Homo sapiens: one gene and its partner. The protein of the gene in region 2 interacts with the protein of the main gene of each other region in a pairwise test. Each region holds a gene or a part of one and is shown on either strand. Other genes may lie near its edges.

What was found.
Region 1: the proteins of CUEDC1 (region 2) and UBE2E2 interact in binary tests that used the Homo sapiens proteins (3 or more experiments, as listed by UniProt).

Annotation. Positions count from the first base shown.
Region 1 is NC_000003.12:23,528,218-23,532,130, forward strand, and holds part of UBE2E2 (ubiquitin-conjugating enzyme E2 E2), read left to right. Parts: intron 1-3,913.
Region 2 is NC_000017.11:57,953,653-57,957,565, forward strand, and holds the start of CUEDC1 (CUE domain-containing protein 1), read right to left. Parts: upstream 1,761-3,913; 5' UTR 1,573-1,760; intron 1-1,572.

The DNA of each region.
Region 1 (3,913 bases), on a different chromosome or scaffold from region 2:
CATTTTGATTCTTCCAATCTCATAGAAACCCAGATGCCCTTCAGTGGGTAAATGGGTAAACAAATTGGTACATCTATTACTGTTTGGTTCTTAGTCTTATTTGGAGAAAGAATTCTGCCAAGCTACTGGTTTAGCCAGAGAAAGAGAATTCATTGAAGGAAAATACAGAGTAGGGAGTTTATCTAGAGAGACAGTACACTCTGAAAAGATGAGGCAGGGCGAGCTGCTGAAAGAGAGTGAGCCAGCAGCACCCCGAGAGTGGTGGGTTTTTATGATTTCAGATTTTTTCTTGAAGTTCCTGCCTCTTTCTTAAGTCTCCGCCTTTTTACTTTGTTTAGTTTTCTGCATCTGCCTTAAGTCCCTGCCTTTTCCCTCACCTAGTTCCCGCCCCAAGGTTGTGGGACCCTCCCTTACTATTGGTGTGCACGCGTGAACCCGATGTTGGACACAAATTGCTTCTGCGTATCTCTTAGGAATTTTCTCCTTTGCCCTCTTCCCTTTAGCATGCATCTAGCTACATTCTGGCAGGTTAACTGGCAGAGTGAGCAATCACTGGGGTCTTAAGGGGGATTCCTTTCTGCCTAGGTATTTCCCCTCCTGTCTGTTCATATCTAGCACGCCTGTTTGGGGTGATCCCTGGGGCATGAGATTTTCCAGACTCCTTTTCTCAGGGCAGCCCTTCTCCTCCTCATGTCTGTTTATCTGCCTATTCTACCACATCTATGCCGTGGAATACTACTCATCAGTAAGAAAGGAACAAATTATTGACACGTGCAACAGCTTGGATGGATCTTAAGGGAATTGTGCAGAGTGAAAAGAACCAATTTCAATTGGTTACCTACTATACGATTCCATTTATATAGCGTTCTTGAAATGACAAAGTTGTGGAGATGAGGACAGAGTTGTAGTTGCCAGGAATTGAAGTAAAGGGAGAAGGCAACTATGGCTATCGCAGGGTACCATGAAGAATGTTTGTGATAGAGTTGTTTGTGTGTTGACTGGTGGTATTCACACAAATCTATACATGTGATAAAATTACATAGAACTAAATATACTTAATATGCATGAGTGCACATAAAAATGAAACTGGAAAAGGTCAGTGGACTGTATTAATGTCAGTTTCCTGCAGTATACTGTAGTTATACAGGATGTTTTCATTGGGGAAAATTGAGTGAAAAATACATGGGATCTCTTTATTTCTTACAACTGTACATGAATCTACAATTATCCCAGAATTATAAATTTTTAACGAAAGAACAGAGGCATTGATGCTGAGAGACAAACCGTAGGCTTTTGGATCAGCACAATTGTGTTCAAATTCTGGCTTCCACTTACCACTTGTGGGATCTTGAGCCAGTTCTTTAACCTCCCTTTGCCTTAGTTTCATCATTTTTCAAGTGGTTGCCAATAATATTATTTTCCCTATTGAGTTGTTTTGAGGGTTAATTATCAATATTATGTAAGCCACTCATTGGTTAAATTGGGATCGTAAAAATATTTTATCTTTTCATTTAGCACTTAAAGGGATAGGCACTCTGCCTTCTCCAGAGAAATTTTAATATCACGAGATAGTCTCTGTTTCATTAACTTAGGCTAGTGTCTTTATTTCTTCTTTCATGGAGTTTACTCTGTTGTTCTTTTACTACCTTCCTGAGTTGGACACTTAACTCATTAAATATCTGTCTTCCTTCCTAATGTATGTGTTTGAAACTGTAGATTTCTCTTTTACAACTGTTTTAGCTGAGTCACAAAATTTTGATATTGGCAACCCAATATTTTCATTGTCATTCAGCAATAATAGTAACTGATTTTTTTCTTTGATCCAAGAATTATTTGAAAATGAGTTTTTCAGTTTCCAAACATATGATAGGGGGATCTTTTATATGTAGATTCTGACTTTACATTATGGTCTTAATAATGTCAATTCTTTGAAATATGTAAAGCTTCTTTTGTGGCTTAGCATGGGATCAGTTTTTACAAATGTTTCTTAAATGTTCCTTAATCATTAAGTGTAGGATTGTGTCTTCATTCACTCCCTTGATTTTGTTTATCCAATTGTTCAGATCTCCAATATCCTTACTAATCTTTAGTCTGGTTGACCTATCAGTTACTGTGGTGAAAATGTCCCTCTTTGATTATAGCTATGTCATTTTCTCCTTATAATTTTGCACATTTTTACTTTGTATACTTTTGGCTATATTGTTAGATACAGCACATTCAGAATTGTTACTGTTTTCTTGATGAGTTGTTTATTTTATCAGTAACGTTCTTTGTTTCTAACAATGCTTTTTCCCTTAAACATATTTTGATCTGATAATATAGTCATTTAAGCTGTTTTTGTTAGCTAGTGTTTACACAGTATATGTATCTAGGATTTAGAATTCTCAGGAAAAACATTTCTCTTCTCATTCTAGAGCCCACGCTTTCTTTGGTAAGTTTCTTTGCTATCTCTGTCATAAGGCATATCTTTTCAAGTCCATGCATTTACTGAAAGACTAGCCATTCGAGTTTCCTAATTGATATAAGGGCGCTCAATTCTAAATTCTTGCAACATACAGGCCTAAGATTTCATCTTCTTTTTCCATGAGGGCATCAAAACCCAAACCTCCACTTTATTAAGACTGAGTACCATCTTTTACTCCCTTCCCTCTTCCCAAAACCCCACCCATGGCAGGTGCAGTCTCAGCTTGTTGCGCTTACTATAATTTTTGGTTTTTAATTCTGGGCTCTGGGAATTCCCCTTACAGATTTTGCTATGCATTTTAAAGAATGTTGGTTATATTTTCTTCAACATTTCTAGGCATTTAAGATGTGTATGTAGGTGTCATGGATTATCTGGTCTGGCATGATGCTAGAAGGGCAGTTCTCATTAGAAGTACTAATTTAACCTGAGAATGATGTCTCTTGTTCGACAACCACATAAGTCTCTAGATTTGCCCTTTCTGAGACTTCGCATCATGTAAATTACATAAATCTGGTGTTTGACTGGATGCTGGATGCCCTGGTGGAGTGGCAGCACCTGCAGAGATCTGCATGTGTGTTTTTCTTGGTTCAGAGCTATTTTGAACATAGGGTACCAAAAGACTGTCTTTAGAACCCTGAGATTTTTGTATATTTCAACTTAAAATTTAAGAACATTTATGAACATAATATTAATCAATAATATTCACATCTTATTGCCGTTTACATAACACTTTTATTAAACAGTTTTAGTAGTTATAAAACTGATTTGCACTTAATTATTTTCGTAGTTATAAAACTGATTTGCACTTAATTATTTTCAGTTGAAGTGTTTTACAAATGATATGGTCATGTTTCACAATTACATGTAAGCAGCATACAGTGGTGATCTAGCTATCACAGGGCAAAGGTAGGATGCACTAATATTACGTTTTAAAAATAAAATTTAAGAAGGAAAAGGTTTCTAAATTACAGCTAATTGTAACTAGTAATATAACTAAAATAGTAAATTGTAACTACTATAATTATACTAATATAGTTCTATGAACTGGGCATGTTATTTATATAAATGCCTTAGTTTATGTTTTAAAACTGTGTTATAGGCCGGGTATGTTGGCTTACACCTGTAATCCTAGCACTTTGGGAGGCCAAGGCAGGCGGATGACTTGAGGTCAGGAGTTCAAGACCAGCCTGGCCAACATGGCAAAACCCTGTCTCTACTAAAAATACAAAAATTAGCTGGGTGTGGTGGCGGGCACCTCTAATCCCAGCTACTTGGGAGGCTGAGGCAGGACAATCGCTTGAACCCGGGAGGTGGAGGTTGCAGTGAGCAAAGATCACGCCACTGCACTCCAGCCTGGGCAACAGAGCGAAACTCTATCTCAAAAAAAAAAAAAAAGAAAAAAAAACTGTTATAGAATAATATTTATTTTCTTTGTATTAGTACTCTCAT
Region 2 (3,913 bases):
CTTTCACCAGATTCTCAAAGGGGCCCATGACTCCAACCTCTGGCCCTAGTTGGCCTGGCCCAGGAGCTGGGGATACAGCCCTAGTCATATCAACATCCCTGGGCCATCCTCGCTGTCCAGGGTCTCTCTTCTATTCAAGGATGTGCCCAGGTCGGTAGCAGTATCCTGTTTCCCTTGTCCTGGCCCTTCCAGCTGCAGAAAGTGGACAGCGGGTTTCACACCCAGCCCTGCTGCACACGCTCCAGCTTCCTGGAGACCCGAGCCAGGTTTCTCCCAGCAGCACCTCTCCATCCCAGAGATGGCACCATATTCAAACTGAGGTACCAGTGGCACTGACCCCCAACAACAGAGAGGACCCAGCTTCACACTTGATCCAGCAGGGGCCCAACCACATGGTGAGATGACTTCCTCCGTGAGAGAATTCCTGGGGTCCCTCACCTCCTTCAGGCACAGCTGGCTATAAAGAAAAGGGGTGAAAGGCCCAGTACATCTCCCTGAGTCCTTTCTCCTGGGCCAGGTGGCTCAGGTGCTGCGGGATCACCCAGGGAAGGCTCATTCCTCTCGCTACAAGACGCTGACTGCGGATCAGGTGGGGAGCACGGTGGATGGTCTTCTTGTATCCTCTATCGCCTCCAGGGCATCTTGTTTCTAAACTCCCAGGGAGTCCCCTCATCTTCTACTCCACTACTCCACCAAAAAAAGGAAAATCTAAACCCTCCCTCCCCTTAAAACACATTCCGTCTCAGGAATTTAATTTCAGTGTACGTTTCTTAGAGCTAAAACTTTTTTTAAGGGGAAAAGAAATGGGCAGGGCAGTGCTGGGTGTAAGGCGACCACGCGACCGAGAAAAGGAAGAGGGAGGAATGAATAAACGCTGACACCAGCCCCCCTTGGAGCTCAGAGCCTGGGGCACAGGAGCCGGCGGGGCGGGCGAGCAGGGGCGGGGACAGCGCATTCCCAACTTTCCCTGGCCGAGCTGACGGGAGATACAGCTCCCAGGGGACCGGGAGGGACCAAAAAAGGCTGAGCCGACCTGTGACATCGGCGGGGGGCAGGAAGCGAAGCTCCCCTCCCCCTGAAAGGCGCTCGGCTCCCAGCAGGCGCCCCCGCCTGCCGTCGCCGCCCAGCCTGCGCCCCCAGGCCCGGGCACTGCGGGGAGGGGCGCCCACACAAAAGGGGGAGCGGCGGGAGAGGGGACTCGGGCGAAGCCGGCTCCGGGAGGCCTCGTCTCCCTTCCCTGCGGCGCTGGCCCGCGCCCCCCGGTCTAATCGCGCGCCCCGCTCCCGGCCCCCCAGATGCCCGCACGCCCCCCGCGCCCGGGGCCCGGGATGAGGTGGGGGCTCGGGAAGGAAGGGCGGGCGGGGACCTGCCGCACGCGGAGCTCCCGGGGAGCCGCGCCGACAGCCCCGGGAATCAAACTCGCGACGGCCCGGCCCTCCCGGCGGCGCCTGGGCAACGGGTCCCGAGAAGGTGGGGCCGCTGGGCCGGGGCCGCGGCCGGGATTGCGCGCGGGGCGCCGGCGAGGACCGCGCCCGGGGCCGGGCGGGAGCCGCGGGAGCGCGGGGGTCTTACCGGGCAGCGCCACGCGCGTCCGCTCCGCGCGGGCCGCAGGGGCCGGGCCGCGGGCCGGGCGGGGGAGGGGCTGCAATCCGCAGCGGTGGCGGCGGGGCCAGGCTCGGCGGCGGCGGCGCGGCTGGGGCGCGGGGAGGCGGAGAAAGTGAGGCGAGGCCGGCTTCCTAGCGGCGGGCGGCGAGAAATGCAGCTGTCCCTGCGCGGCTGCCGGCAGGGCCACAAGTGGGGCCGCGCGGGGAGGAGCGGGGCTGCGGGCGGGGCGGGGCGGGGGCCCGGCTGCGGCGCCCCCGGGCCCTTTCCCTATGGCCGACCCCTTTCCAGAGAGGAGGGAAGCGGACCTGGGGGTCCGGAAACCTACATGGTTGCCGGGGGTGGAGAGGGGAGCACCCAGTGAAGGCTGGAAAAATGCCCTCCGTGTACCTCCCTCCCCGGCCGCAGTGACTCCCTAGCTTGCGGGCAGGAGGGCGTGAGCGGGGTGCCTCGACCTCCCGCGCAGAGCGGGGTGCGGGGCATCCTGCCCCTCCCAGCTGCGGAGAGGGTGGGCGGAGGAGACCTGAGACCTCCGAGACTCCGCGGGGAGCTAAGAGCAGGGCTGCCCGACAGGTTCCAGGTCAGTGCCAGGAACCCAGGGTGAGGACGCACAGCTGGGGCTTGGGACACAGGTGTGGAGGAGGGGCACCTCCCTGGAATTAGGGCCCCGGAAAGGAAACCAAATCAAATGCTGAGGACACAGGAGATGGTGGGAAGGGGGAGCAAATCAAAGCTATCACTCGTCCACACCGACAGATACCACCTGCCATCTCCCATTTTCTCCTCCCCCAACCTCCCCAGCATCCCTGATCACTTCAAGGGCTGCTGAGCCCTGGGAAGATTTTCCACGGAAGAACTTGTTTAATAAATGGGAAACTGACCTTTGCTATACTTTTCCCACGTGCTTTCATTTCAGACTCCAATTTGGGAGTAGGTAGCCTAGGTCAGGTGGTGACCACCAAGCACCCTGCTACCTAGGGGATCTGAGGAGGGTGAAGAAGGCCAGATGCAAACTAAGCTCTGTCCCCAAACAACTTGCAAAGGGTCTGCACCCTCCTCCTGGAAAAGTCTGCCTTACAGACCCATTTGCCCATCTGGGCCCAGAACCCCAGGAATAGCCCCCCTCTCCCCTCCTCTGAGCGCTTGCAATTTGCTAGCCTTGCTGAGACAGATCGACACGCTCAGCCTCAGAGACAGCTGATGGTAAAAACCACAAACCAAAGTGCCCCAGACACCAATGTGTTTCCATCATTTGCATGTCAAGGGCAAGTTTCTTCAGCAAGGTGGGAAACTGGGAGGGGGAGAAACCTCAGAACCACACCCTCCTCGGGGAGGCCCAACGTTAGGTTAGCATGTTGAACGGAACTCCAGGACTGGGTTTCCAAACCCCTCTGAGGATCTCCTCTCTCCTGCTCCTCTCTCCCCACACTTCACTCCCTGGTGCATTCAATTTCCGGGGGAGGCAGGGTGCTTGAAATCCCAGAAGATGGTCTTCAGGCCCCAGGTTAAAGATTCTTAATCCGAAGGGACAGACCCATGCCTCTATACTGACTCCTGGCTCCTTTCCCAGGTTGTAACTGAGAGCTCAGGATTTGTCCGCCTGGCCAATATAGTCTAGATTATGTTATCAAGTGTATTACCTTACACTTACCCATAGTGCAGTTCATTTGTCACTTTCCTGCTTACTTGCAAGATCCCTCTGCAGTTCATTCCTGTCACCTTGGCATTTCAGGAGCAGAAAAATGCATCTGCAAACCTGGAGATTTCCATTTGCACTCGCCTATGGATTGCTCATAATTTTTTTTTTTTTGAGACGGAGTTTCGCTCTGTCACCCAGGCTGGAGTGCAGTGGCACGATCTCAACTCACTGCAACCTCCGCCTCCCAGGTTCAAGCAATTCTCCTGCCTACGCCTCCTGAGTAGCTGGGGTTACAGGTGGGTGCCACCACGCCCGGCTAGTAAAATTTTTAAATACATTATTATTATAGTCATTAATAAAACCAGTTGCTCTAATGGACACTCTTCCTTGAAGCACACTTTTCTTGGGCTTTGCTAACATACTCCTCCTTTTGGGTCTGTCCTTCTGGAAGCTTTTTCTCAGACCCCTTCCCTGCCTCTCACAACTTCCCCACCCCCAGACACCTCCACCCACTCCCACCACTGCCTCTGAGCCCCCAGGGCTCCAGCCCCTCACACCAGCCGCCTACAGAGGGCCACCTGTGAGTCTCCCAGACACCTAAAACTCAAGGAGGCTAAAGGCGACTGAGACCGCTTCCCTACCTAAGCCACCTCCTCCTACTCTCCTGAATCC